Regions from separate parts of the Homo sapiens genome. Here all the other regions are linked to region 3. Evidence: fine-mapped expression QTL. A gene starts in region 3. Each other region holds a variant in brackets. All regions are shown on one strand. Distances are between the middles of the regions.

Region 1 (10,076 bases), 88 kb before region 3:
AGAATAGCTTCTGCCCCTCAACTTCCCTCCTCTCCCACTCTGGGGTTCCAGCACCATGGAGCATAAAAGCCAGTTTGGAGGGAGGACTGTGCATGCATATAGATATGTGTGTTTATGTGCGTGTGTGCATGAGTGTGTGGTGTTCCTGGCTTTATGTGTGTGCCCTGCGACCCTCCAAGCAGCCTATGCATGGCTCTGTGGTGTACCAAAGCCAGGCATGGCAAGGATGCATTTGATTCCACACCATGGGGCCCAGGAAGGCCGCAGCCCTTTATTTCTCTGAATGAAATTGAATCTGCTCCGAGCGCTCCTCCCACTGTGGGGATGCAGGACCGTAGTCATGAGCAAAGCAATGCCTCGGCCTCCAGAACATTTGTGAGAAGCCCTCCCTGCCTTCAGTCCTCCCTGTTCAAGTGCCTTTTATTGAAGGTGTTGGCTTTGTGTCAAGGACCCAGACAGGTCCTGGAGGGGGGTGGGCTTCCATACAGCACTGTCAGAGCTGAGGGCTGGCCAGAGGCCACATAAAACTGGCTTTTACTGAGTGGTTAGGATTCCAGGCCAGGGTGTTACCCCGGGAAACCCTGCTCTGAGGCCATGGAATGGCACCCTGCTGCGGGTGACGGTGGACCGTGATGGTGTGTGATGTGGGGCCCCTAGTCTGCAGAGGGGTGGGGCTCCTCCCTCTCCACCCTTCTGCAACAGGGCCTGGCCTTGCTTCTCAGGCAGATGAAGGAGAAGGGTCTGGTGAGCATCCAGCGCTTGGCAGCCTGTCACTCAGAGGTCCTCACCGGGAAGCTGCACGACGTGTGCTTGGTGGTGACTGGGGAGGTGAGGCCCCCCAGCCTGTGTGCTGTGCATTTGGCCCCACTGCAGCTGCTGGATGCAGTCCGCTAGCAGCTGTGGAGGGGCTGTGGCTTCAGGGACATGGGGATCCCTGCTTATTTCTCAGCCTTCAGCCACTGAGGTAGGAGGTAGCCACCCATTTCTCAGATTGGAAAACTGAGGCCTAGGGTTTCCTTATTTGTAATCTTTGAGAATGGAAACAATTAGAATCCCACATGCCCATGTGTCGGCCTGCATGGTCCTCTGTACTCAAAATGCCTAAGGAGGGATGGAGCGTCCAGGGCCAGATCCCCAACTCCAGGGCAGTGGTAGTATTTCCCAAAGCGTTTCTTTCATGGCTCTGTGGCTTGGTCTAGCTGGGTCCAGAGAGGCAGGAGGCTACATTTGTTCTCATGTGGAGGCTGTGCCCTGCCCTTGGGAGTGGGCTGCTCCAGTGGGGGTGGGGTGGGGATGAATACGGAGGACGCTGTTTTGTTAACACAGGGGCCTGGGCTGTGTGGGGAGCATCTGCCTTCCTGCATGTGGCCTGGGGTCTCTGTTTCCTCTGCAAAGTGAGGCATCCAGAAAAAATACAGTTACATTCTCCCAGGTTAATTAGAGCCTCAGTCAGCACTACTGTGCTTCTCATGGTACCTATTTCTCACTTGGTAGTTGCAAAGATCAAATCAGACATTCTTTGTAAAAGTGCTTTGAAGACAGAGTGTACACATTTCCTATGGTCATGATAATGATGGGATTAATAATTGAGATGATAACAAAATGGGACAGTTTTGCTCAGAGTGGCTGCAGGGTTTTTGTTTCCAGCGTGGCAAGGCCTAGGTCAGGGGAAGGGTGGGGGTGGAGGAAGAGGGTGGTGCAGGGCCCATTTTCCATGCGTCCCAGAGCCCTTGGCAGGGTCCAGCACCCTGGAGGGCCTCTCTCCTCTCTCCAAGGTCACCAACCTGCGGTCCAAGGTGTCTCACCTGGCCATCAGCACCTTGGGAGACCTCTTCCAGGCCTTGAAGAAGAATATGGACCAGGAGGCCGAGGAGATCGCCCGCTGCTTGCTGCAGAAGATGGCGGACACCAACGAGTTCATCCAGAGAGCAGCCGGCCAGTCTCTGAGGGCTATGGTGGAGAATGTGACCCTTGCCCGCTCCCTGGTGGTCCTCACCTCGGCGGGTGTCTAGTATGTGGCTGCCTGTTGTCTGAGGGGCGGGGAAGTCAGGGAAGGTAAGGCAAGGGGAGAGGCCCTGGGATGTGAAAGAAGGAGGGAAGGGTGCAGGGAGGGAGGGAGGGAAGCAGGCAAGTGAGGCTGCAGGGGGTCCCTTGAGATGCTAGAGGACAGGGTGATGGGTCAGAGGTTCTGAGTGAAGAAGGGGCCCATCTCAGACTTCACAGCAGGTGCTTCCCACTTAGCTGGGGGAGGAAGACCCCTGCTTCCCTGTGCCGGGCATCCGGCTTCTCTCCCAACCTTTCATCGGCCAGGCCGGGGGAATGCAGGGACCTCTGGCTGGAAGAGGAGGGGGCCGTTGCACTCCAAGGCTGGGGAGCACACCGTGGCTGTGGGAGCGCCCCGGGAGACAGGGCTGCAGAGGCAGCCTGAGCATGGGCCCTGGAGCTCCTGTCACCCCCAGGAGCAGTGTTGCTTTCTGATGAAATGTGGGCCAGTGAGAAGAGAAAGTCGCAAAATTTCATTCTCCAGCTTGCCCCACTGGACCTGCTCCTGGGGAGGGGAAGGTATTGGGTTCCTGTTGGAGCCTTTCTGCAGATTTGTTTTCCCTGTCATTAAACACCCACACTAAAAGCAAAACCAAAAGCATTTCCCAAGCTGCTTCTCCCGCACAGCAAAAGGCCTCTCCACCCCATAAGTGGATCATTACACTGATGCGTGAGGTTTCTCAGTAGCCCCAGGGGCCTGTTGGACCAGCTGGGAGACCTTTAGTAATTGCACCATAGCATACTGCAAAGGGTGAGATCCTGCCCAGCCACATTGCCTGGGTTCACATCCTGATTGTCACTTCACTTCTCTGTGTCTCAGTTGACTCATCTGTAAAATGGAGATAATAATGGTGTCTACCTCATGAGGTTGTTATGAGAGGTAATTGAATTGACTCACGAAAGCGCACTTAGAAAGGTGCCTGCCCATTCCTGACATTCACTGAGTGCTTACTGTGTCTATAATTAACTTAGGAGAAATGAATTGTATTTTTTTTTTCTGGATGCCTCCCTTTGGCTCAGCTTCCTCACCTGCAGAATAGTGATGATAATAGTAGCTAATGAGGTAGATGTGAGATAATGGATAAAAGGTGCTGGCATGGAGGGACAGGCAATTGATCACTGTCAACAAGAACCAGGGTCATGGCTTGTGCATCTGAGTCCGCTGGGATCTTGCTGAAATGCAGATTCTGGTTCAGATGTCAGTGCTGCTGGTCCATGGACCATGCTGAGTAGGGAGAGTTCTGATGTCCCCCACTGTGTTCCACTGGGGTGAGACTCTAGGGGACAAAAGGGTCAGTGCTTCCTGATGGAGTGTGGACACAGAGGCCCTTAGAAAGAGGTGCCATTCTGACAGGTTTCTCTTATAGAGCTCAGGTTCCACTTGTTATGGTCACCAACTCACCCATGAATCCCTCTTCTCCCTCCTGTCTCAGTTCAGTTCAGCAAACATGCATTAAGCTCCTGCCAAGCACCAGGGATGTGTCAGGCACAGCAGGGCAGTGGGGTTGCCACAGAGAGGGAATCAGGACTCCAGCCAGGACACTAGGTAGGGAAGCACCAGGGGCCTGGGGCGGAGAAGGCAACCAGCCAGCCCCGAGGGGCCTGGAACATGCAGCTCAGCTTCCCTGGGATTCTGCAGAGGGACAGGCAGGTGGATGAAAGCTATGTCCTTCAGCTCTAGTCCCATCCCTTCCGTCAAGCCAAGCCCATTCAGCAAGGAGTCCTTACTCCCTGCCTCCACTTTCTTGCCTTCCATTTCCCCTCTGCCCATCGAGTGTTGCTCTTGTTTCTGCCTCACCCCAGTACTGTTCTCTGTACATTCAGGCCTTTTTTTTCTGGAGATACTTAATGATCACTCTTTTCGTCATTATGGATACAGCAGTGAAAAAGAAAAATGAAGCCCCTGTTGTTTTGGAGTTACTTCCTAGTCAAGGGAGACAGATAACCTGGTCCCCGCCCACAGGGAGCTGGCAGCCTGATGGGGGCCCTAAGGGTGCAACTGTACTTCCCCGGGGACAAAGACAGCGCTACCTTGGGCAGTGG[G/A]TGGGATGTCTAATTCTGCCTGTGGGGCTGGGGAAAGAAGGAAGAAGAGACACTGGTTAGGTAGGACTTTTCTAGGTGGAGGGAAGATGGAGAAGAGTACTTAGACAAAAGGAAGGATGTGTGTGCAGGAAGCTCCCAAGAACGGTATGCATACGGTGTATTGGGGAACCTCGTGTAGCTTCATGTCACTTTCCTTCCCTCTCCCGTTGTTGCTGTCACCCTGTTCGTAGAAAGTGAGTGCTCTTTCCTCAAAGATTCCCCTCAGCTCACATGGGGACAGGTATTTTTGGAGCCCCTGGCTGGCATGAAGCATGGGTCTGCAATGGTAGATCCATGTTTGCCAGCCTGGGGACTCCCACACCACTATCCTGAGACTGACCCCTGGGCCATGATTTCCTTTCAGCCACCGGAACCCCTTGATCCGGAAATACGCGGCTGAGCACCTCTCAGCTGTGCTGGAGCAGATCGGCGCTGAGAAGCTTCTCTCGGGCACCAGAGACAGCACAGACATGTTGGTGCACAACCTGGTGAGGCTGGCACAGGACTCCAACCAGGACACCAGGTAGGGCAGGGCCAGGGGCCTGGGGGCAGAGAAGGCAACCAACCAGCCAGCCCTGAGGGGCCTGGGGCACACAGCTTCAGCTTCCCTGGGATCCTGCAGAGGGACAGGCAGGTAGGCGGAAGCTATGTCCTTTCCTTTCAGCTCTTGTCCCATCCCTTCCATCAAGCCAAGCCCATTCAGGGAGGGGTCCTTACTCCCTGCCTCCACTTTCTGGTCTTCCATTTCCCCTCTTACCCATTGAGTGTTGCTCTTGTTTCTACCTCACCGCAGCACCATTCTCTGTAAGAACATTCAGGCCTTTTTTTCTGGAGATATTTAATGATCACTCTTTTTCTTATTAAGGACACAGCAGTGAATAAGAAAAATGAAGTCCCTATTGTATTGGAGCTTACTTCCTAGTCGAGGGAGACAGATAATAAATAAATAATTATGGTAATTTTAGATACATATCAGGGATATAAAGAAAAAATAGGCCGGATGTGGTTGTTCATACCTGTAATCCCAGCACTTTGGGAGGCCAAGGCAGGAGGATTGCTTGAGGCCAGGAGTTGAGACTGGGCAACATAGTAAGATCCTGTCTCTACTTAAAAAAAAAAAAAATGCTAGGGGTGGTGTTGCACACTTGTAGTCCCAGCTACTGAGGGGCTGAGGTGGGAGGATCTCTTGAGCCCAGGAGGTAAAGGCTGCAATGCAATGGAGTTGGTGGGGGGGCTGCTTTAGACTGAGGGTTCAGAGAACCTTTTTTAAGAGTGACATTTGAGTTGAGAGCTGAACGGCTACACGGAGCCAGCTCTTTGAGGATCAGGCAAAGCAAATGTCACAGAGGCCACTGGATGGGAACAAGCTTGGTGTCCAAGGGTGGGGACGGCCAGCCTGGTGGAGCACAGTGAGTGAGGGGTGGGGGTGAGGGTGGGCAGCAGGCCCAGGTCAGAGACGTTCTCCTAGGCCAAGGTCAGGAGTTGGGATTTTGGATGGTGTGTGATTGGAAGTCATTGGAGTGTTTTCTTAGTGGGAGTATGAGGAGGTGTTGGAGGATTTTAAGCAGGAGAGCGAGAGGATCTGGTTGACTGTCTTCAAAAGCTAGGGCTGGAGCCCAGTTCCTCACACTCCTCAGTTCAGGGCTTATTACTACCACATCCATTTGGATGAGTGTGTAGGTCTCCACCCCTCACTCCATCCTCGCCCCAACTGGAGACCATGTGGCACCTGTCAGGGCTCCAGAGGCCATGCCCACCCTGGATGGGTGAGCTCCAGGCCAGACATTCTCGTAGGGTACCCACGTCTGAGGGTGCTCCCTGAGGGATGTAGTGCCTGCGGTTCCTCCCATTCTCCCCTGCTGCAAACTGTGCTGCATGGCACCTCCTCGGACGTGCCCAGGAGCAGGACCGTGGGTCAGATGCATGTGTGTGCTCCAGCAGCCCCGCCCTGCCTGGGGTCCACATCTGCCTCCCTCCTGCACAGCCTCTCAGCATGTGGCAATTTCTAGATTTCTAATTTTTATCCATCTAATGGGTAAAAATGATAGCTCATCATTGTTTTAGAGTGCTTTGACCCCCTGCTTATTAATAATGAGTTTGAGTGTTTCTTTACATGCGTGTTAGCCTTTATAATTAAAAAAAAAAGCCTCTCTGGCTGCCGCAGGACTGGTAGTGAGAGAGAAAGGCAGGAGGAACAGCAGATGATGGCTGCCCCACAGTCCAGGCAAGAGGGGCTGGAGGCTCAGACTGGAGAGTGGTGGGTGGCTTCGGCCAACAGCCAACAGGATGGCAGAGCCAACAGGATGCAGGTGGTAAGGGTTTCAAAGACGAACTGAAGATGCTCTTAAGTTTTTACCCTGAACAATGGTGAATAATAGTGCCATTTGCTGAAATGAGGAATATCAGTGGAGAAGTGGAAGGTTTTGCTTACTCCTGCAAGAATGGCCATAATCAAAAAACCAAAAAATAATAGATGTTGGCGTGGATGTGGTGAAAGGGAACACTTCTACACTGCTGGTGGGAATGCAAACTAGCACAGCCACTGTGGAAAACAGTGTGGAGATTCCTTAAAGAAGTAAAGGTAGAACTACCATTCGATCCTGCAATCCCACTACTGGGTATCCATTGGGTATCATCATATGAAAAAGATACTTGTTCACGCATGTTTATAGCAGCACAATTCTCAGCTGCAAAAATGCGAAAACAGCCCAAATGCCTCATCATCAATCAACGAGTGGCTAAAGAAACTGTGATATGTATGTATGTATGTGTGTATACACACACACACACACACACACACACACACACACTGGAATACTTAGTCATAAATAGGAATGAATTAATGGCATTTGCAGTGACCTGGATGAGATTGGAGACTATTACTCTAAGTGAAATAACTCAGGAATGGAAAACCAAACATCGTATGTTGTCACTCATAAGTGGGAGCTAAGCTATGAGGATGCAAGGGCATAAGAATGACATAATGGGCCGGGTGCGGTGGCTCACGCCTGTAATCCCAGCACTTTGGGAGGCCGAGGCTGGCAGATCACAAGGTCAGGAGATCGAGACCATCCTGGCTAATACGGTGAAACCCCGTCTCTACTAAAAATACAAAAAATTAGCCAGGTGTGGTGGCGGGTGCCTGTAGTCCCAGCTACTCAGGAGGCTGAGGCAGGAGAATGGCGTGAACCCGGGAGGCGGAGCTTGCAGTGAACCGAGATCGCGCCACTGCACTCCAGCCTGGGCGACAGAACAAGGCTCTGTCTAAAAAAAAAAAAAGAATGACATAATGGACTTTAGGGACTCAGGAGGAACTAGTGGCAAGGGGGTGAGGGATGAAAGGCTGCAAATAGGGTTCAATGTATACTGCTCGGGTGATGGGTGCACCAAAATCTCACGAATCACTACTAAAGAACTTACTCATGGAACCAACCACCACCTGTTCCCCAATGACCTATGGAAATAAAAAATTAAAACAAAAACAGGCAAACAAAACATTGCCTGGCTGGGTGCAGTGGCTCACATCTGTAATTCCAGCACTTTGGGAACCCAAGGCAGGTGGATCTCTTAAGCCCAGGAGTTTGAGATCAGCCTGGGCAACACAGTGAAATCCTGTCTCTACAAAAAATACCAAAATATTAGCCGGGCATGGTAGCACGTGCCTGTGGTCCCAGCTACTTGAGAGGCTGAGATAAGAGGATCGCTTGAGGCCAGGAGGCACTGGTTGCGGTGAGCTGAAATAGGGCCATTACACTCCCGCCTGGGCAACAGGGTGAGACCCTGTCTCAAAAAAATAAATAAATAAAAAAATCACAAATCACATAGCCATTAAACTTGGAGCAAATACTTTGAAGAGTGAGTTTAGGGGGACTGGAAGAATGGGATGAAATGTCTATAAACAGCTATTCTTTGTGTAGCATCTACTAGAGCATCTACTATATAATAAAGTGTTGTGTAACTCTGCCATGCAACGAAAAAAAAAAGGACGTAGAAGGTTTTGGTTTGCTTGTTGGTTTTAAATGGTTGTTAGAGGGATGGAAATCAAGGTCTAAAGTCTCTCCAGATCTGCTACTCCTCTCCATTCTGACCCATCCCTTACACTAGATGATGGTGACTACATTTCCTTTTCCTTCCTAGAACTCTGTCCTTCCTGGTTTCCATGGCACTGTACTCCGGGGATTCTCCTTGTCCCTCTGTGACCATTCTGCCCCTGACTGCCACCTGAGTGTAGGTGCTGCCAAGGTGTCTTTAGTCCTCATCTCCCTCTCCTGGCTTTTACTTCTGGTGGCTCCAGCCACCAGCAAAGTTGGAGGCTTCTCAATTCTTGCCCTCCACTCCAGACCCTTCTTCGAGCATCAGTCCCCATTTCTAAAGCCTCCATGGGACCCACCATCTGATGTCCTACTGCCATCTGCAGTGCTGAGTGTCCCTAAATGAACTCATTGCCTCCTCTCCAAGTCTGCCTCTCTGTGTTCTCTCTATCATTAAAAGTGACTGTTATTTACTGAGCCACCCAAGAGGCACAATGGGGACTCCCATACTTCATTGATTTCAAGACACACATCCTTCCCTGGTTTTAATATTTTTAAAATTGGCATGTATCTTACAATGACAGGCATTTCACAGTTGCTGTTGGGCTTCAGTTGGGCTAGGCAGTGATTAGGACATAGGTGTTTTTGTAGTTTTAAGAGATGGGGTCTTGCTATGTTGCCCAGGTTGGAGTGCAGTGGCTATTCACAGGTGTGATCATTGCACACTACAGCCTTGAACTCCTGGGCTCATGTAATCCTCCTGACTCAGCCTCCCAAATAGCTGAGACAATAGGTGTGCACCACTGTGCCCAGTTTATGATGTAGTTATACTATCTGCACCTTCACAAACTTAGTCAGTGTTGCTCAGAGTATTATTTTCTGAATTAAATTTTCCATTGTAGGAACTACACTATGAGCCTTTCTTTGTAAATTTTTAAATTTATTTTCAGAAGTGATTTTTGGATGCTCTCTGGAGAATCATTGAGTTTAATCTGTTTAAAGTTTCTTAGAAATATTACACTATTATTTGCAATTGAAATGAATAATTATTGTATATGAGAAAAGGCATGGCAACGTCAGTGGATATCCATTAGATATCAATGAAGCAAACTCTCACTGTGGAAGGAATGACCAAGTCCCACATTTTTTGCAAAGCAATCACTAAGAACTTTACCTGACCTAAGGAAGAAAAATACCGACAAGCAATGCTATCTTCTGTTTCTGAGATAGCACATAGAAAGATTGCCCTCACACATGGGGCAGTGTCATTGGAGGCTATGGAAATCACCAGTTTTTATTTTTCTGATTTTCCTTAGTGGAAAATAAAGTAAGGGCACCTTTTACAATTAATGGAGTCTTAAGTTTGAATGAAATATGATTTAAGATTTTAGATGCTTCCTGCTTCACTTCCCACCAGCTACCAAATCCTGTGGTTTCCATCTTCTCAGCAGCTCTTGGATCTGACTGTGCTTCCTTATCCTCACTGTACTGCCTGATTTCAGGCCTGCACCATCTTTTTCCTGGACTATTATGGTGGCCTCCTAATAAGTCTCCTGGCCCCTAGCCTTGTCTCCACCAATCCATCCTCCACACTGCTGCTAGAGACATTTTGACTGATGTACAAATTGAATCATTCTTCAGCTTCCTATTGCATGCAAACTGAAGCCTAACTCCTTCATGTCTCCCTAAACAGGGTCCTGTGTTCTCCTCTGGCCTGTCTGCTTCCTGTGTCCAACCTCTGCTCACTATTCTCCAATATATCCCCCTGCTGACATGTCACACTGTGTTATAGACCTAAATAACCCTGTTCCTCCGACGTATCCCAAATCCCACCCAACTTGTGAACTCCTACTTATCTGTTGAGCCCCAACGCAAGGGTCACCTCTTCTATGAAGCCCTCCTTGATTCCCTCACCTGCCA
Region 2 (10,076 bases), 120 kb after region 3:
TTCAGTCCTGCCTTCCTGCCCCCTTGGGAGTCCCTGGGGCTCTGTGCACTCACCAATCATGATGCCGGAGAAAGCCAGGACCAGGGCGGCCACGAGGGCAGAGGTCACCACAGAGAGGATCAGCGAGAGTGGCAGGTGTGGCTCCGGGGTGGGTGACACTGGAAGACAGGTCCCACTGGGGTATTGACAACCACACCAGGTCTCCTTTGAGTTGGTCCCAAGTCAGAAATAACCTCCCCCACTGAGACAAAAACTACTTGCTCCTTCCCATCGCTGGAGACCTTGTCACACTTTTCTTTTCAGGGGACCATGAGCAGGACCAGACTCATCCCGATTTGACAGGCTTTTAGCAGTAGCTTTTGGGTGAAGGGAAATTTAACAGGGATGAATATCAGTGGCGGGATGTTGGTTTGAAACATGAGCTGCACAACTATGGGGTGAGGATGGAAGGTGAAACGAAAGTGGATCTGGAAGAGATGTGGGGGCCGCAGGTGACCAAACAACAGGGTGCGCTGTAAGTAACACCCTCTGAGGCTAAGTTACTTCCTTGTGGCCCTGAGGCACTGGGCTCACAGTGGGGAGGGGTCCTGTGCCCTCTGCTGGCCAGACCACACGGAGGTATCGTGCTTGGTACTGGACACTACATTTCAAAAGGGACATCGATAGTGGAACACATGCAGAAGAGGGACACTGGTGGGGCGGGGGAAGAGACACAAAACTGCATCTTGTATGAACTGCTGCAAACAAATGGGTTATTTAGTCTGAAGAAGAGTTAAAGGAGGAGGATGGGGCCAGGTGCGGTGGCTCACACCTGTAATCCCAGCACTTTGGGAGGCCGAGGCGGGTGAATCACCTGAGGTCAGGAGTTTGAGACCAGCCTGGCCAAAAGGTGAAACCCTGTCTCTACTGAAAATATGAAAATTAGCCTGGCATGGTGGTGGGCGCCTGTAGTCCCAGCTACTCAGGAGGCTGAGGCAGAAGAATTGTTTGAACCTGGGAAGCGGAGGTTGCAGTGAGCCGAGACCACACCATTGCATTCCAGCCTGGGCAACAACAGTGAAACTCCGCCTCAAAAAAAAAAAAAAAAAAAAAAAAGAGGAGGAGAATGGGAGCACTGTCTTCAAACACTGCACATGCACAGCTGCTGCTGTAAGGAAACCTAGGAGAGGAAGGTTAAGGCAACAGGTCCCCAGCTCTGAAACTGCCCAAGGGAACAGAGAACCTTAGGAGCAGTAAGATCCCTGTCACTGGGCATGTTTAAGTGGAGGCAGGATGGCCCCTTGGTGGGGGTGGTAGAGGGCTTATTCTATAGTAGAGGATTTTTAAGACTCCTTCAGGAGCCATGACCCACCTTTCACACAGTGGTCAGAGCACTCGAGCTGTGGCAGGTAGGGGAGGGACAGAAAGTTTACAAAACCGAATCCAGGGTGTTCTGGAACCCAGAAACCATTTGTGGTCATGGGCCAAATCTCAGGCTATGGGCCCCTCTGCCTCCCCTGGCCCTGCCCCCTTACCAATGCAGGAGACGCCATCCTCAGCCAGCACCGTCCCGTGGTCACAGAAGCAGATGACCTTGTGGCTTTCAGGGTCCATGTGACATTCGTCTACCTCACAGTGACTGCAGTTTAGATAATGCTTAATATTCACTTCCCCGTGGCCTTCCATCACTAGTGACAAGGAGGGAGGGTCAGTCTTGGGCCGAGCCTGCCTCCCCACTCCCAGCCTCAGTACTATGTCTCCAGGTGGTCACTGTGGGTGCTCTGGTGGTCCCTGTTCCTAGGTCCCATAGCCACTGGAAGCACAACTGTGTAGAAGAGTCTTCCTGTGCATATAGAGAGTGCAGCGGAGGCAGCGGGCATGGGTGTCTATGGATGTTTGCTTTTGAGTCAGTGGTGGAGAGAAGCCCACGCACATGATCTTTAGGTTGGCTGGTGCAGGTATTGGGCTATTACTGTTACATTTCCTAGGATTCTGCCTCTGCATTCATATTAAAGCACACATCCTGACTTCTGGAAAATGTGGTGACCTGCGCCATAGGAAGCTTGCCTGCCAGGGACCCATAATTGTGCCTCTGTATCCTGGATACAGGTCAGAGACTCTGAGGTTTTAGCTTGGTGGGAGGACTGACCTAAGCAAGTTTGTTCTGCTGCCTGGCAGAGAAGCTACCTTTTAAAGCTGGGGTGTACAGGATGCCCAGTGGACTGATGAAGGAAACCCCATCTTCCCCATCCATTTCGGGGTCATTGTTTGAGGCTGCATTGCCGCCTGAGTAGCAAACCAGAGCAGAGTTTAACATGGGGGGTGGGTGCCAAAATCTTAACACACACACACGTCAGTGGGGCATGCAGCTCTGGCCAAAGTTAGGGGGTCACTGGGGACCTCAGGGGCAGGGATGCGGGGAGGGAAGGGAGGCTCAGGGCACAGAGGCTGCATGTGGGATTTGGCTCAGTAGATGCTGGGTGTGTGGCTAATTTCCCCTCAGGTCCAGGCCAGCTCCCACTCTGCCGGTGGCCCACTAAGAAGTGGTTAATGTGAGCAAGAGTCCAAAAAGTTCTAGTCTTTCCAGGCTGGGATATGCCCATGGTGCCTCTCCCAGGACTGGTCAGGATGGTAGCACTGAAGAGTTGCTCTTCAGCCCCATTGGGTCAGGGTTGGGGTGTGGCGGGCTGTGCGGATTGCGGGAAATGAGCCCCTGTGCCCTGAGGCTCCCGTCCCTCCTTTCATCTGGGGCTGGGCTATCTTTGGGCTCCCCCCTCGGGCTCCTCCCACCCACCCAGCTTGGAAAAGAAGAGCATGTGGTTAACACAAGCATCTTACACACAGCGTCAATGCAAAACACAGACACGAACACCACAGAGCATGCATGCATTCGTCCTAATCTGTGGGGAGCGGGGAGCCATCGTCTCCCAGCCTCTCAGCTTCAGAAGGCTCTGCTGACTGTGCTCTGAAGCCCAGACGAGGCAGCTGGGGTCAATGGGCAGCTGCTTGCTGAAGGGCTGGGCTAAGCCTGCCTGCAGTTGCCCTCGGGAATAGCTCCCATCAGCAGGCACAGCGGCGCCTTTCAGGAAGCTGGTGGGCTGAGGTAGGGAGCAGGAGTAAGGAGTCCATGAAACCACAAACCAGCCCCTTCAGGAGCTGGCTTGGCCAGGCCATCCAAGGGAGGCTGGGGGAGTCCTTATGGGTGACTCAGAGACTAGTCTGGCAAGCCAAAGCCTCTTTATCATCGACTTTGGGGGACATCAAGAATCACATGGGATCTTGATGCTGTCGCTGAGGAAGCCTGGAGGCAGGGTGCTGGCTCGAAAGCCAGCACCCTGCCTCTGGCTGGTCCAGGCAGGTCGAGAGGGAGGCGTGCAGTCACATCACAGTCCACACTTGGGCAGGCCAGGGGAGGGCAGGGGAGGGCAGGGCAGGGAGGTGAGGAGCCTAGGACTAAGCAGGGAGGGAGTGACACCTTGAACACGAATCATCTTTACCTATATATCCTCCGCCTCCTCCACCTGAGGAGCACCCCCCTCCACCCCCTCCGAAACCCCCTCTTGTCTCCCACCCCCACTTCTTCATGGCCTGGGGGCAGGAATGTCCTCCGGTGGCACCCTCCTGCAAAGATTTTCCGGCCCAGAGCAAGGAAGTGTTATCATTCCAGCCACCTCCACCACCTGCGGGAAGAGATAGGGAACCTGCGTGAGGATGCTGGCAAGGTTCAATTAGCCATGCTGGCCAGAGAAGCAGGATGCAGGACGCCTTGGAGGGCGCCCGCACCAGCTCCAGCTCCCGGGGCCCATCTTCAGTGGGGCCTGGGGGCTTCAGATCCACACTAGGAAAACCAGGAGGCTGCTTGCCCTAGGAGACCTGTTTGGCCACAGCTGAGTACACCCAGATGAGAGCGTGCCTTGTACCCCTGCTTCCTGCCAGTACTCTCTGGCTCAAAAGCAGGGGCTGTGCTTGGTTAAGGATGGGGGGACGTGGGCAGACAGGCAGCATGGCGACTAAACTCGTTCCTCTATCTTCTCTTCATGTCAGCCAAGCCCCGTAGCACTGGACCTTCGTTTCATTAACTGCCTCCCGTCCTAACGAGAAAAGGGACTCACCAGTCTTTGAGCAGCCACATGTCAAAACCTTGCACTAAAGTTCCTTGCAGGAATCCTGGACTAGGCTGACCAGAGAGCCCGTTGCTGTCTGTGAAACCCTGGGGAAGAACGCCCCATTCTGAGCCTGTGTTTCCTCACCTGTGGCTTGGGGATAATAAGACCCACCTGATGGGGTTGATGTTCCGCTCAAAGGAGACAGTGAGTGTACGAAATGCTCCACAAACTGCCAGGGGTGGGGAGCGTCAGGGGCTCGAGAGGCAGAACACACGCGTGCAGACAGCCTCACACCTGGGCTCAGCCTGCTTAGAGGTTCTCCAGGGCCAGGCGCTCAGGAACTGCTCCAAGGTCAGGAGCAGAAGCCCTGGTGGGTGGACGATACCCTGGCAACAAAGGCAGCCTCAGGGCTGTGCTTCCCAATGCCTGGGGCTGCTTTGGGCTCTTACAAAGGAAGCTATCTACAGAGCCGAGGTTGAATGTAGCCACAGGTTGACCACAAGAAATCTCTTCTGCTAACCTTTGAGATTCCAGGATATCCCCTATGCCTACTGTTCCATAGGACATTTGAATAGACATCTACAGTTGTCCCTCAGTATCTGTGGAGGTTCCAGGATCCCTCCATCACACCAAAATAAATGTCCCTTTATATAAAGTGGCATAGTATTTGCACATTCTCCTATAAAAAAATCATCTCTAGATTACATATAATACCCAATACAGGGTAAATCCTATGTAATAGTTATTGTATTATTTAGGGAATAAGTCTGTACATGTTCAGTAAAGACACAATCATCTTTTTTTTTTTTTTTGAGTATTTTTGATCTGTGGTTGGTTGAATCCCACGAACGCAGAACTGATGGATAGGAAAGGGTGGAGGTATTCTAAAAACCCTAAAACCCTTTCTGCTGCAGCAGATGATGCATGCTGGGGACCTGGAAATTGATGGTGGAAGGCAGAAACAGCAGTGTGTGTGTCTGCCGGAACCCTACGGGTGAACCGGCCTGGCAGGGTTTCTGGAAGCACTTGTGGCCCAGATTCTTTGGGACCCAGAGGGACCTGTAGGTGGGATGACTGTCTTGCTAGAAAGAGGAAGCCAGGTTTTGAAAATGAAGCTGAGGTCAGGAACAAGCTTGAATCTAGAATGGGGACAAGCAGAGCTGAGGCGAGGCCATCAGGCAAGCTGGGGGGACTTTGTTAGCCATGAAACCTCCAGGGGTGGGTGTTGAGCTTGGGTTTGTTTCGCTGTCCTCCCTTCTGCTCTCAGGGGAGGGTGTGGGCCTGTCAAGGCTGTTGTCATGTGGCAGAGAGAAGGCCCCTTAGGCGCGTTAGGGGCCAGAAGTTGGCGCTGGTGTTTGTGCACGGCTGTGAGTAAGCGCGTAATAAATAAATCAGAACGAGATGGACGGAGACCATGCGCTGTGCTTTCATCCTGCTCAGCCCCCAGCTGAGGAGGTTTCTGACCCCCATACCCGTTCTGCAGCCTTCGAGCAAATGTGTGGAAAGGAAAATAACCCATATCAAAATCAGAACAACGGTGTTTTAAAAATACGAATTGAGTCTGGCCAGGC[G/A]TGGTGGCTCACGCCTGTAATCCCAGCACTTTGGGAGGCCGAGGCAGGTGGGTCACCTGAGGTCAGGAGATTGAGACCAGCCTGACCAACATGGAGAAACCACGTCTCTACTAAAAATACAAAAATTAGCTGGGCGTGGTGGCGTGTGCCTGTAATCCCAGCTACTCGGGAGGCTGAGGCAGGAGAATCGCTTGAACCTGCAAGTCAGAGGTGGCATGAGCCGAGACCGTGCCACTGCACTCCAGCCTGGTGACAGAGCGAGACTCCGTCTCAAAAACAAAAAACAAAAAACAAAAATTGTCTCTATCACTAAACAGCTCGGCCCTGTTGAGAAAAAAAAAGTCATCATGCCTTGGTGAGCCCATTGGCTCTCCTGTAAAACAGGAATGGTATCTGCCTGGAAACCTGCAGGTTGTTTTGACAGCACATGTGCAACAGAGGCAGAGGTGCTTCAGGGTTTCTCGGGTGCTGGGCCTCGGTGCTGCAAACGTCACTGGAGATCCTCAGGGTGGACCCATGACTGTTTCTACTCTTCTATTCTAGCCGTCTCTCAATTGAGAGACAGTTTGCACATTTGTTTTAATTAATCCCAAATCTTAAATGCCTTCTAAGATCCTCCCACAGTCTGATTGTGTGGAAAAGAAAATACAAAAAGGAATTGCATTTTCTGTCTTTAGGGGTGGCTGACTTTAGAGGAATCAGGGAATTGACACTCTCTTCCCTGCCTGTCTCACATTTCTGTGCTTCTGGCTCCCATTAATGAGGGAGGAGAGCTCAGCCGTGGAGAGTCAAGTAAGAGATTTTCCAGCGGGGATACGCTTGGGTCTGGCAGCCCAGGGCCTGGAGGTCTGTACCATGGGGGTCTAGGAGGCCTGACATTGCCCAGATTTTTTTCACCTGCTCATATCCTAACTGGGGGGCCCATCTGCCCCTGGAGGAAGAAGGAATCTCAGGGGGAGGCTCTAACAATTGCAGGGAGGGCCAGCTGGCTGATTGACGGCTGCTCCCTGCCTCACTTTCTCAGTGACCTTCTACAAGTCCAAGCTCCAGGTCAGCAAGATGGCCTGCAGGGCTCCCAGGGTGCTGCCTGCCCTCCCTCCCTGGATATCGGTACCAATATTCAGAGCTCCTAGCATCCCAGGTGCCAGTGACTAAGATGCCCTCAGGCATGCGATGGCATCGGGGCCCAGCTGAAGGCCTGGGAGAGGTTCTGGGAGAGGGCACGCTTGCAGCGCTTTACCTGCGGCTCCGGAATTGCCGTTTAGCCCTAGAACCGAGGAGTTATTCTCCAGTCTCTCTGGGTGGAACGTGTCTGTCTTGGCCCCGTAGGCCCTGCCACCACCTCCGGCTGCAATGATCAGGGGCACCGGCACTCCATCCTTCATCTGACCAGGGGAGACATTCAGACATTGAGAAACCGAGCTGTGCTTCCCCCTGGAGCCCCTAAGCTCTGGTAAATTCAACCTGACTGAGGGTTTGCTGTTTTGGGGTGACCTGGTGACCTCTCAGTGGTCTGAGGTGGTTTGCGGGCTCTGAACCCTTGTTACAATAGCCCATCGGCTCCGCCAGCTTCTCTATCAGTCAGGGTTCAACCAGAGAAGCAAGACCTATATACCAAGAGCAAAATATAGATACCAGGAGGTGGGGGTTGATCTTAGAGGCTGCTTCCTCTACTTCCTCTAGCCCCTTTCCTGAAGCTCCTTAGACTGGCCTCAGAGGTCTGGATGCTGGTGATTAGAAGCAGGTCTCTCTATGCTCTCTCTCCCTCATTCTTAGGGGTCTCTGGCTCTGACCCCCAAAGATTCAAGGTTAAGCCCTCAGCATCACAGTCCTGTGGGAGGACCTAGCAGGTGGCCTCTGTCTTCAGTTTCTGGCCTGGCTGTGATGATGTCAGCAAAGTCCACCTTAGGGCAGAGAGCTGGTCCAGGAGGGCACAGTGGGACTCTCTGAAAGTAGGATGGCAAAGGCTGTGCATGGTGAAATTGGGCTGATGTATCAGTAAGAGAAGAGTTCTACCCTTTCCTGGACAGACAGACTCTATATCTCTCTGGATCTCAGTCTGCTCATCTTTATTTTTTAATTCTTTTGTTGGTTTTAGAGACAGGGTCTTGCTCTATTGCTCAGGCTGAAGTTCAATGGCGTGATGACAGCTCATTGTAGCCTTGAACTCCTGGGTTCAAATGATCCTCCTGCCTCAGCCTCCCAAGTAGCTAGGACTACAGGTGCAAGCCACCAAAACTGGCTAATTTTTAAATTTTTTTTGGTAGAGACAACGTTTTGGTATGTTGCCCAAGCTGATCGTGAATTCCTGACCTCAAGTGATCCTCCTGCCTTGGCCTCCCAAAATACTAGGATTACAGGAATGAGCCACTGTACCTGGCCCTGCTCATCTTTACACGGGGATAAGAGCATCTGAGGTGTTTCTATCCCAGGGCTGTCATGAGGCTCTGACATTGCAGATGCACAGGAACCTGGTGGAAATCTGGCAGCACACACCATACCTTAAATACGTAGGTGGCTCCACCCCCTCCTCCTCCGCCTCCTGCCCACTCATGCACGCTTCTGTTCACACGGATTTCTTCTTCTATCACATTGTTCTCTCCAATGCAGACTTTCTGGATTAACTGGTTTGTCTGTAGAAACAAAAAGCACGTTAGGTTTGTGGCCAAACCAGAGTTCTCCACTTTGCAGCAGACAGAACTTCTATGCTTAAAAACAGGATCTGACTCTCTCTCAAAAAACTTACAGTTGAGTTGAGGAGGCAGAAAAATATACCAATAACTGTCACTCTGGGCAGTGTTAGGGAAGGACCACAAGGATAGCTTAGACAGAAAATGCTAGGAGAAACTGGGAGAGAGAGAGCAAGGTTTTATTGCTGTGAGGACTGCTTGTAGGAGGCGGCTTTTAGTTGAGCCTTGAAGGATAGGGAGTTTTTTTTTGTTTGTTTTTGTTTTTTTCACAGAGAGTGGGGCAAAGTTATGTCATTCCAAGAGCAGAGAGTGGCATGAGCCCAGAGGGAAGTGGGTGAGTGGGGTGCGTGGGGGAAAAGCACAAGGGTCTCTTTGGCCCAGAAGTCTATCAGGACAGAGAGATTGTCCAGGACCTGTTTCGATCCTGTGGGATGAAGAGATCCAAGAAAGAATGGGAAAGGTCCTATGTGGTGAGATGGGGCTGGAGGGAGCGTAAATTAGGTGGGTAGAGAGAATTAAACGGAACAGTGTGATCATGGCTAGAGGCCTTGAAGGCACTGCAAGGAGTGGACTTCATTCTCTATGAGAGCCGTTCTCTCACTGAGAGCCATCGAGGTTTTCTGAGAAGTCACAGTTCTGAAGCATCAGGAGGAGAGAAAAAAACCAGCAAGAGGCCAGACTCAAGTTTTATTCCCAGTTCTTCTCTGGGAAGATCAGTTCTCCCTTTTGGACATCTCATTCCTCCTAGCTAATGTTCCATTTTTTCCCTCCGGAATCCCTGGCACACCCCTCTGCTTGCCTTGTAGAGTGAGCCCTGCAATCAGGTAGTCTGGATTCTCCACCCACCCTGGGAAACTGTGACAGGGGCCCTCGATCTCTGATCTTCCAGTGTGGCTGCGAATGAAGACAACACAGGTCGTTGTGGCATTTACTGAGCGTAGTACAAGTACTACCCTCAGGCATCTAGTGGAGCGCCTCACACATGGTGGGAACTGAGTAAATGGCTGCTGTTCTTATCTGTTTGTTTTTGCCATCTTACTCCGTGCAATGGCACGACCTTGGCCCACTGCAACTTCTGCCTCCCAAGCAGCTGGGACTACAGGTGCACACCACCATGCCCCGCTAATTTTTGTATTTTTAGTAGAGGAGGGGTTTTGCCATGTTGGCCAGGCTGGTCTTGAACGCCTGACCTCAGGTGATCCGCCTGCCTTGGCCTCCCAAAGTGCTGGGATTACAGGCGTGAGCCACCGTGCCCAGCCAGCTGCTGTTCTAATTTAGATTCACTTCTGGGCCCACATATGCTCCTGGTTGGGGCTCAGGTATTAGAGAGTCCCCAGGATTGTGCTGGAGATTTCTGTAACAGAATCCTGGAATCCCTGAAGAAGTAGGATGGTGCTTCAAAAACAGCCACGCCTGCTTGTCGGCCACCACAGCTCAGACGAATTCTTCAAACATCAGCCTGACCTTGGAGGAAAGTGACTTTTCTTTCACTTAATAGAAAAAAAGCCAGTAAAACATCACATTTCCATCGATGCTGCTTCGTAACCAGCTAGTGGATGCAGCCATTCTTCTTGAGCCACTTCTTACGCTAAAGCGCTCAGGGGTGCCGGCAATGAGTACTACAGAAATTTCCAGATAAATAGCCGAGATGCAGTTTGTTTCATGGAATTTTGGATTTAACGATGGAAATAATTTGATATTTCTTAGAGTGGATCTAGTGTGGGTGGAAG
Region 3 (10,076 bases):
CGCCACTGCATTCCAGCCTGGGTGACAGAACAAGATTCTGTCTCAAAAAAATAAAAAAAGAATAAACATAGAATAGCATGAAACTAAACTAGATCAACTGAATGGAAATATCTGAGGAGGTCTTTAAGGGTTTATTTTGCAAAAGATATCCAGGTGATTCTAATGCACAACCAGGAATGAGAAGCCCCATTCAGATAATAAGTCTCGTGCGGCTCAATGGAGTCCTCTTCAGTTTGTGGTCTACTTCAGCAGGCAGTCCCCACCTGCAACCTTGACAAAGGAGATGGATTAGAGGAGGGCAAGCCCAGGTAGAAGCAGTAGGAGGTTCCTGGGGTCTCCAGTGGCTACTGATTTGTAAGGATTTCTATGGTATGTGAATTTACTTAATAAATGATATCATAAACTTTTTGAAGAATGAAGACAGGGAGTTTGGTTTGGAGAATCCAAAAATATGATAGGAAGAAAGGATGACTCCAGTGAGCAAAAAGAAGAATAGAGTTGCCATTTACTGACATAGGGAAGGTTATGGGGAAGGGTTCCATTTTGAACATGTTCTATTTGTGATATGTAATGTATGCTGTAGAATGGATGTTGAGTAGGCAGTTGGATATACATCTGAGGTTCAGGGCTGGAGATAGAAATTTGGAAATCAGGAAAACAGAGATGATATTTGTTTATTTATTATTATTATTTGAGATGGAGTCTCACTCTGTCCCCTAGGCTGGAGTGCAGTGGCATGCTCTCAGCTCACTGCAACCTCCACCTCCCAGGTTCCAGCAATTCTCCTGCCTCAGCCTCCCAAGAAGCTGAGATCACAGGTGCACGCCACCATGCCTGGCTAATTTTTGTATTTTTAGCAGAGACCAGGTTTTACCATGTTGGCCAGGTTGGTCTTGAACCCCTGGCCTCAAGTGATCCTTCCTCGGCCACTGAAAGTGCTGGGATTACAGGTGTGAGCCACCACGCCTGGTCAATATTTAAAGCCATAGACTGAATAAGGTCACCTAGTGAATGAGAAACTGACTTCCTGGAAACTGCATGAACAAGGTGCTTATAGAACCACTGTAAGGGTTTCTCTGAGGCATATCCAGGAGGGTGACTGCTGAGTCATAAAGCATACTGCTAATTTTTTTCACTAAGCACTGCCAGGTTGATCTGCAGAATATATTTACCAGTTTAAATTTCCATCAGCAGTGCATCTTTCCCCAGATCTTTGCCAATATTTGGGATTATCTTTCTGATTTCTGCCATGCTGGTGGGTGAAGCAGTGGTGTGTTGAAAACAGTTCATGAGAGCTGATAAAGCACATTTCTTCCCAACTTCTTGTTCAGTGACCTCAAGCTACACTGGTAGCTGGAAACTGGCAGTGCTCAGAGTATTTGCACCATGGAAATTGGCAAACACTGTACGTTAGGACTTTTCCTTCCCTGGGGAGCGGGTTTTAAAACATAGACCAGCATATTGGTGGCTATGGGGTCACACTCTTTATATTCCCACTCTGATTACAAGTGGGGTTGAGCATCTCTTTAATGCTTGCTTGCCATTCTGGCTTTTCCTTCTGTGAATTGTCTATTCTTATACTTTTCTCATTTTTATATTGGCCTTTAAAATATTTTATATTGACTTCCTTTTGATTTGTGAAAAGTTCCTCATGCATTTCAGATATTAATCCCTAGTTGCTTTTGAACATAGCACATGTTTTCTTCCAATTTGTCAGCCATCTGTTAATTTTTTCTATGGTATTCTTAACTGAACAGAACCCTTAATTGTGATGCAGTCAAGTCATACAATTTTTTTTTGCTTCAAGGATTGTGCTTTTGCAAACCTGTTTTATGAAGTAAATTCCTAACCCACATTATAGAGATAGTCTCCTGCATTTTCTTTTGTATCATATGTAGGTCTGCCATTTATCTGGAGTTCACCTTTGTATATGGCAGAACATGGGGCTCTCAACTTTATTTTTCCTTGATAAATTAAAGCCAGTTTCCCGAATGCCGTCTTCTAAATAATTTATATTTTTCTCATTGATCTGTGGTACCACCTTTGTGTAAATGGAGGTAGCATTTATACGTGGGTCTGCTCCTGAGTTCTTCATTCTGTTTCCTATTTGCTCTATGTGTTCCTATACCAGTACCATAATATTTTTATTACTATGTGGCAATGACATAATATCTGGCATGGCAGGTCTGCTCTGGTTTTTATAATTGACTTAACTGTTTAAAATTTATTTCTCCTTATATATTTTGTAAGTTTGTTGAGTTCCCTAAAAATTTAGTTTCTGCTGGAATTTTGGTTGCCATAACATTTACTTTGGAGACTAAATGGATACTTTTACAATGTAAAGTCATCCTATCCATGCTGTATCTCTCCACTTATTCAATATTTTATGTCCTTAAATAGAGTTTTAAAATTTTCTCCTTAAAGTTTTTGCAAGTTGTTGGGTTAATTCCTGGATATTATGCTTTAGAGTTTGTTAAACTTTATTGTTATTGTGAATGGTTTCTTATTGTCTGTTACATTTCCCAGTTGCTTACTGCTGATGTAGACAAAACTATTGATTTTTAGAAACTGATCTTGTACTTGGCAACCTTGCTGAGCTAACATTACTTCTAATACTTTGTTGATTCTGTTGGGCTTTTTATGCTGATGATCACACCTGTAAACATCACAGACAGGAAGATATTAGGGGCTCTGCCCAGTGCTCTGATCTTTTGCATTTAAGCACTTCTGCTAGTTGAACTCCAATCTGGTGCCCCAATTCTGACAGTTGGGTGTCTCTCATGGTCCTAAGGGCCTAGGCCCCCTATACACTCACAAATTAGAAACTGATGATATTCCATCCCATATCCAGTCCATGTAAAAGCAGTGACCTTGTCTTCTTTTGCTATTTCCTCTAACCCTTTTATCATGGTCGGGGTCCTGAGAGCTGCTGACAGATCTTCCTGCTGCCGAGTGTCTGAATTCCTGAATGCTGCTCTATGCAGCCATTCTGGGTCTTTAATGCCCCCAAAGACAGCCTGTGTAGGTTAGCAAAGTAGTGAATCAACATAGGCCTTCAGATCAGACAGACTTAGGTTTGAATCTTATTTCTGCCCCTGGCTACATGGAGCAAGTCACGCAGCCTCCCAGAGTCTGCTTCTTCATTTGTAAAGTGAAGACAAGATTTCCATAGGTCAAGTGCCTTACAGTGGTCAGTGAGTAATGCCCTTTCTCCACACTGTGATGTTGACCAGTAAGTTGATCACCTCCTGACGCTGTGGATTATTGCTATACTTTTCAGGAACTTTGTGTCTCCAGATAGAATTGAATCTCAGCAGCTACAGTTGGTCCACATCCCCATGTGCCTTCCCACCCCAATGAATAGTTCAAGTTCCAAGTTCTGGCCACATATCATTGTCCAGTCTCACTCTGGTTAACTGGGCAATACCTGGTTCTAAAGCTTGTATGTCACGAGGTATTCTAGGAAGCATGACTCCAACGAGCACTTGCATTCTTGATGATGGTATAAAGAAGTAACGTCAGATTTTTGAACAAAGGCAACTAAGTGAGTGGGAGACTCTGGTGGCTTGGTATCCTGGGAATTTGCCTATGTATCATACAGTGTTTGGGTGTAGCAGATAAAGCCAGTGGCCTGGCTGGTTCTAACAGAGATCTTTATTATAACTAAGAACAACTGAGCTAGCCATGCCTTGTCACCTACTAATAGTGGTATTTCAGATGGATAATTTAAATCAGCAATAAAAGTGAACTGTATACGTTTGGAAACTTCACCAATAGCTACTCTGTTACACACAGATCTTTATGACTTTCTGTGGTTCAATGACAATTGGCCTCATTTATAGGTGCTTGAAGCCAACCAAGGGCAGATTGCCTTCCTTCTTTTAACCAGCTAAAGAGATGGGTGGGTCAGACAAGAAGAGGGTATGATGAAAGCAGGGAAAGGGAGGTGGACTCTTCAGAGGGAGGAGGAAGTATCCGTGTCACATTATCTCTGAGAGCACTCGCAGATGCTGAGCCTGCAGAGACAGAGAAACTGGCAGCTGACCAGGGTCAGGGATGGTCATGTATTCAAATATTGTGGGTTTTAGTCAAGTGTGCTCCACCCGATTCAACAATGTGATGTGACTGCTCCTAGCAACTATTTTGATATGGTGAATGTTGTTAAGCATAGGACCTAAGAAGAGGTGGCAGTCTCTTTCCTCTCCGCACTTGGCAGGCCACCCACTCATTCCTGATAATCACATTTAAGAGAGCTCTGGACAAGCTGGAATGCATCCAAGAGAATCCCTCAACATGCTGGTGAGTGGGATTGTGACCAGGTCATATCAGGAGTAGCCTAAGGGACAGGTAATGTGTGTCTTGGATGAATTGGAGTCAGACTTAAGAGTCCCCAGGGCAGAAACAAAATCCAGTGAGGGAGAGATGCAGGGAGCTGGATTTTAGCTCCTAAGGTAGAAAATTTCCAAAAGGCTGATCAAAGATTAAATGGCTGCCTTAAAAGGTAATGAGTTCCTTGTTAGTGGAGGTGTTCAACCACTGCTTGGTGGGAAGACACTGTAAGGAGGATTCAGGCAAGTGGGAAGGGGGCTTTTTCCAGTCCCTGAAATCAATGATTCTAACAGGAAAAGATGCTCCGGGGTGCGGTGAGCGCTTACCTCTGCTCTTGCAGAGACACTGACAGACGTTCATTCAACATCTGTTCCTGCCAGGCACTGTGCGCGCTGAACACAGAAGTACAGCCTCTATGAAGCAGCCGCTGTAGGCCTCAGAGACAGCTGATAGATGTAACACTGTTGTCTCCATGTTTCAAACTTCGGTCATGGTCTTACTAGGTCTCCTCATTAAGGGGACTCACTATGTGTCCAGTAACGCTTTCTTGTTACCAGATGACAGAGAGTCAGGCTGTCAGAGTTCACGACTTTAGGTGCACAGTTTCACCCTGTCTGGTCCTTGGGAGACGGAGAAGGGGTCAGGAGAAAACGTGGGTGAAGAGGCAGCAAAGCCGCAGGAGATATGAACTAATTGCTCAACGTGGGTGTAGCACGGATTAGGCCTTTTACAGCAAGCGCTGCCAGCAGGGAACTGGTGGATGTACTCTTGACCACGCTCGGCTGGACTCTGGGGAGCCCAAGACGGGTAAGACTAGGTCCCCGGCCCCAGCAGCTGGTGGGGGCGCCGCAGGTTAGAGACGTGAGGCCGCGAGGCTGAGGGCTGTGAAGGCGGTGGGCACGCACGGCGTGCCGGGGCCGCCTGGCTTCGCGGCGGGGGAGGTAACACTGCGACACCCCGCAGACGCTGTCAGCCGGGGTCGCGGCCCCGCGTGCGCCCGATCATCTGACTGCTGGGGAGTGCGGGGGCGCGGGAGCCAGGCGAGCCAGCGCAGGCGCGCGCTGCCTCCTCCGTCCCCACCGAGTCCCCAGCGCGTGCGCGGGGCCGTGGCCGAGGCCTGCGCGCCGCCCGGCCGCCTGCACTGCGCGCGCGCCCACCCCGCGTGGGAGGCAGCGGGAGGGGCCCGGAGAGGTGTGGAGCGGCGCGGCGGGAGGCTCCGTGGGCGGCCACGGGAGACAGCGCCGGCGGGAGCGCGCCTCTCGGCCTTTCCTCCGCGCCCCCGCGTCCCCAGCCGGCCGCTCCGAGAGGACCCGGAGGAGGCAGGTGGGCCGGGGGCGCGCGGGGCCCCCCCGGGCCGCGGGCTGGCCGGCGGCGGGGTTGGGGCCGGGGTGGGCGGCCCTGGGGGCCCGCGGGGAGGTCAGTGGCCCCGGGAGGGTCGCGCAGAGGCGCTGGGGGCTGTGGAAGCCCCGCGGCCGCCTCCCGTGGGCACCGGTGTCGCTGGCCGCGGGGAGGCCTTCTCGGGGCGGAGCGGCCCACCCGGCGGGGATGGGGACTCCTCGTGGCGGCCGCTGACGGACGGCCCAACTTTAGGTTGAGGGGCGCGGGGTGTGCGGGACCCGGCGGCGGAGCTGGGCTCTGGGCCACGACCGCCAGCCGCGGCTGCCCCGAGAGTCCCCGCACGCGCAGTGGCTTTCCAACGCGGCCTCTTCCCATTTCTCACTTGACTCCCCTTGCGCATTAAATTGTCGAGAAACCTTTGGCCAGTGGGTCTTCAAAGCTAAACCAAATGGCTGTCCTTGCAGTCCTTGGCTACCTGAGATCCCTTAATTCTGAACCATCCGCACCTGGGAGGGGAAGTTGAAAGGAGCGCTGGAGCTGAGCCCGCATCCTTAAGGATCCCATTCACTGCTTATGATGGTAGAGCTTTGAATTAGATGTCAGGCTGTTCACGTCATCCAGACTCTGGTTTTCAGCTCTGTGCTGAGACAGTGTTTTGATACGTATCAGAGGATGATGTTCCTATGGGACAATAACTTGCTGTATGTTCTGAGATACTAGACTGCGTTCATATTGTAGCACCATCATCGTATAAAACGGGCGCCTTTGAAAGGTTTCAGTAAACACCTTCCTCAGGAACATCCGCCAGCACTTAAATTGTACTTCACTTTCACTTTGACGTTTGTTGTTTGTGAATCTTGTGCACAATTTAAAGTGAGTCGTCTAAACAGCACAGGATCACGTGGTGCGGGGCATTGAGCAACTGGGGAGGAAAGCAGAGACTTGAACCTGCTGGAGTCTAGTTGGTCTGCGTTTTTATGTTGGAGAACCATCCTGGTTCCAGCTTATTTTGCTTTCGTAAATATGATGCATTTTTTAAATGCTTTCATTTGATACGGTCTATCTGGACTGTAAGATTGAGTCTAGCCATGCATGGAATGTGTTTACTTCTGTTTTGTAGAAGATTTAGCCCATGGTATTCTATTTGTAGGATTCATTTCAGACATTTTGTGTTTACCACATACAGTCCCACCAGCAAGGGCTTTTAAAAAAGTGACCTATGTTGTCTCTCATAGCTTATGACAACTCCAATTTTGACACGTGTTTGAAACTAGTGATCTTTAGATTATATAAAATCAACTTCACTCTTTCTCCCTGTTCAAACCTCAAACTCTGGTTACTTTTAGGCTTACTGCTCCCTTGTTAATTATTTATAATGAACTATGGAGCTATAGGCTTGCTTTAGTGTGTTAACCTTTATTTGTGTCTTGTTTCAGGCATTTGTATATTGTTTTCTCATCTGGAGAGTGAGCTGCACTGTTTTCCTTCAGTGCTGTTTAGAAGAGCTTTCGGAGACCAGAAACATGTTCTTTTTGCATTACCCAATATGGTAGCACTAGCCACATATAGCTTTTGACCACTTGAATGGGGCTAGAGCAGTGGAAGCACTGAAATTTTAATATTTTTTTTCTTTTCCTTTTCTCTCTCTCTTTTTTTTGTTTTTGTTTTTTTTTTTTGAGACGGAGTCTCGCTCTGCTCTGTCACCCAGGCTGCAGTGCAGTGGCCTGATCTCTCCTCACTGCAATCTCTGCCTCCCAGGTTCAAGCGATTGTTCTGCCTGAGCCTCTCGAGCAGCTGGGATTACAGGCGCCTGCTACCACACCCTGTTAATTTTTGCTGTGGGGTTTCACCATATTGGCCAGGGTGGTCTCGAACTCCTGACCTGAAGTGATCTGCCCATCTCGGCCTCCCGAAGTGTTGGGATTACAGGCATGAGCCACTGCACCTGGCCAATTTTTAAATTAATTTAAATAGTCACATGTGGCTAGTAGTTAGCTGGTCAGATGCCACAGCTTTAACTTATTAGTCTCCAGGAAGCCTTCGTTGACCCTCTTGAATCTGTGCTTTCATAGGACTCAGCTGTCCTTGGTCATAGCACTTACTACTTTCAACTTTCTGGTAGGAATCAACACTAGGCTGTAATTTATATGAGGGCAAGGACAGATCTGGTTTCTTTACCTTTGCATAGCTTAGAACTTAGTAAGAAAAACTGAATAAATATTTGTTAAATGCATAAATAGCTTTTTCAGGGCAGGTATTTCAATTTTTAATTCTCTCTAAGGCCAACTAAGTGTTCAGTACTGTAAATACCTGTTTAGTAGATTGTACAGATGTTATGTAGGTAGCAAATAAAAGGATCATTGGAGTTATGCTTTAAATACTTACGTGGTGAGATTGGAATCTCAGGAGAATGATGACTCATAACAAAGTATTACAGGAAATTGAATGAAAGGGCCTCATGATTCCAGCTAATGTAGACACAGCTTTGGTCTCCTATTAGTTGAATAACTCAAGGACACTCTTGAACCATATCTCAAATCTGAAGTCTCCTGGCTTCAGTAAGGCCCTTTTATGGGGTCCAGACAGTCCTGAACCAGCCTGAAGATGCTAGTGGACATCCCCATTTATTACTGCTCTGTGTTAAAGCATGGACCAAGGAGTCTTGGAAAAAAAATCACAAGGTATTTGAGCCACGTTATGTAAGATGCTTTTGCTAACAGCTAACTTGGAGTGATGAGTAGGGTGAAATTCCTATAGAAATCAGAGTTTGGGGAATTTGATTCTAGCTATTGTTAGTATCAGAGGCACCTGTTCTGTAGACAGTTGATTAGTGCCAATTTTTTTTTTTTTTTTTTGAGATGGAGTTTCGCTCTTCTTGCCCAGGCTGGACTGCAGTGGCGGGATCTCGGCTTACCGCAATCTCTGCCTCCCAGGTTCAAGCGATTCTTCTGCCTCAGCCTCCTGAGTAGCTGGGATTACAGGTGCCCTCCACCATGCCCAGCGAATTTTTTGTATTTTTAGTAGAGATGGGGTTTTGCCATGTTGGTCAGGCTGGTCTCGAATGCCTGACCTTGGGTGATCCACCTGCCATGGCCTCCGAAAGTGCTGGGATTACAGGTGTGAGCCACCATGCCTGGCAGGGCCAATATATATATATATATTTTTAACCTGAGGCTTACTTTATAATCAGTTATCACCAGTTAACCATAGTTGGATTTGGAATGAAAGTGTGTACTCAGTTCAGATCAGTATACTTAGACATTTGACCAAGAGTCCAGGTGTTGTAGGTCTTCAGATCCAGGAATTGCTTTTAGGAAATGAATCTGAGACTATAAGGAAGTTTATAGGGGTACATAGTTTCCTTTGGGAGGACAAAAGGTAGAATGTTAAGTTTTTCACGAAAATAAGGAAATGTAACTAGAGAAAAACGCAACAAAGACAAAATACAAAGAATGTTCACTGCATTGGTCAGGTAATATTGTAGCTTCTTCTGGACTTGAAGTATCTAATATGTAAAAGAATGAAGCTGGTTACATCTGATTGCATGAATCCTCTTTCCACTTTGAATCTAAGCTTTGAATATTAGTTAAATATGTGTAACACACTATTCTAGCTCCTGTGGTGACTGCTAGTTGTGTACGATAGAGTTCGTATCTTTGAGGATCTCAACAGTTTACAAGGAAATGAAAGGTGCTCTGGGGATCACTTAAAATTTTTTTTTTTGAATGGGAGACTCCACCCTTTGAAAGGGAAGTCATGTGGTGACTCCTCTTAACCGACTCAGACAGATATCCACTGAATCTTTTTGCTGAAGAATTAAGAGTATAAAAACATGTCTGAGTCCCAAACCGTGATTATAGTCAGATTAATTTTCCTAAAACAGCTTTAATCATGTTACTCTCTTTAAAAAAATCAGTAGTTTCCCAGTGCTCATGAAAGTAAGTGGTTTGGTCTTTGATGAGGTATTTGCTCCTCAGTACAGCCCTAAAAAGCCCTTACAGCCTCACCTCTGACTGTTTTCCTAGTCATATCCCAAGTTCCAGCCTACTGTTCTTTTAATGGGATCCCCTTTTATATTGATACCTATTCATCATTCAAGACTCATCACAGATGATACCTTCTTCACCATTTATGATTCTTAGAAGCTCCAACTGCAAATGTTCCTGGTACTTATGTGATGGAGCAGATCCCATTCTGCCTCATAATCTATAGTTATTAGTGGTATTTTATTCACCTTAATAGATTGTAAACTACCTAAGAAGCATGGACCATCTGTTAACTCATTTTTGTATTTGCTGAAACATCTAGAATAGTGTCTTGTATATAGTGGTTCCTTAATAAATACTCATTACTGTTTGGAATTGATAGTATTTGAGGAAGATCACCGCTGCTCTATAACACTAATTCCA

Evidence for each region. PIP is the estimated chance that this variant, and not a neighbour inherited with it, causes the effect. A credible set is the group of variants that fine-mapping cannot tell apart.
Region 1: its variant is the best candidate, but not a certain one, in a credible set for the expression of CLIP4 in T cells (TOPMed, PIP 0.70).
Region 2: its variant is the best candidate, but not a certain one, in a credible set for the expression of CLIP4 in fetal neocortex (Walker 2019, PIP 0.51).

What each region holds. Positions count from the first base shown.
Region 1 is chr2:29,022,364-29,032,439 of GRCh38, forward strand. It overlaps TOGARAM2 (TOG array regulator of axonemal microtubules 2), which reads left to right. Exons shown (of 20, transcript NM_199280.4): 12 at 723-828; 13 at 1,776-2,011; 14 at 4,490-4,648. Among named protein-coding and RNA genes, the nearest start is that of TOGARAM2, 46 kb to the left of the region's middle. RefSeq lists an enhancer at 1,364-1,865. The variant G/A (reference allele first, on the strand shown) is at 4,087.
Region 2 is chr2:29,225,408-29,235,483 of GRCh38, forward strand. It overlaps ALK (ALK receptor tyrosine kinase), which reads right to left. Exons shown (of 29, transcript NM_004304.5): 14 at 8,158-8,289; 15 at 6,897-7,041; 16 at 3,477-3,659; 17 at 2,167-2,265; 18 at 1,515-1,667; 19 at 54-158. Among named protein-coding and RNA genes, the nearest start is that of CLIP4, 120 kb to the left of the region's middle. The variant G/A (reference allele first, on the strand shown) is at 5,657.
Region 3 is chr2:29,110,014-29,120,089 of GRCh38, forward strand. It overlaps CLIP4 (CAP-Gly domain containing linker protein family member 4), which reads left to right and starts at 5,402. Exons shown (of 16, transcript NM_024692.6): 1 at 5,402-5,652. LOC105374386 (a long non-coding RNA gene) reads right to left here and starts at 4,731. Exons shown (of 3, transcript XR_007086265.1): 1 at 4,656-4,731. RefSeq lists silencers at 5,263-5,622, 5,813-6,052.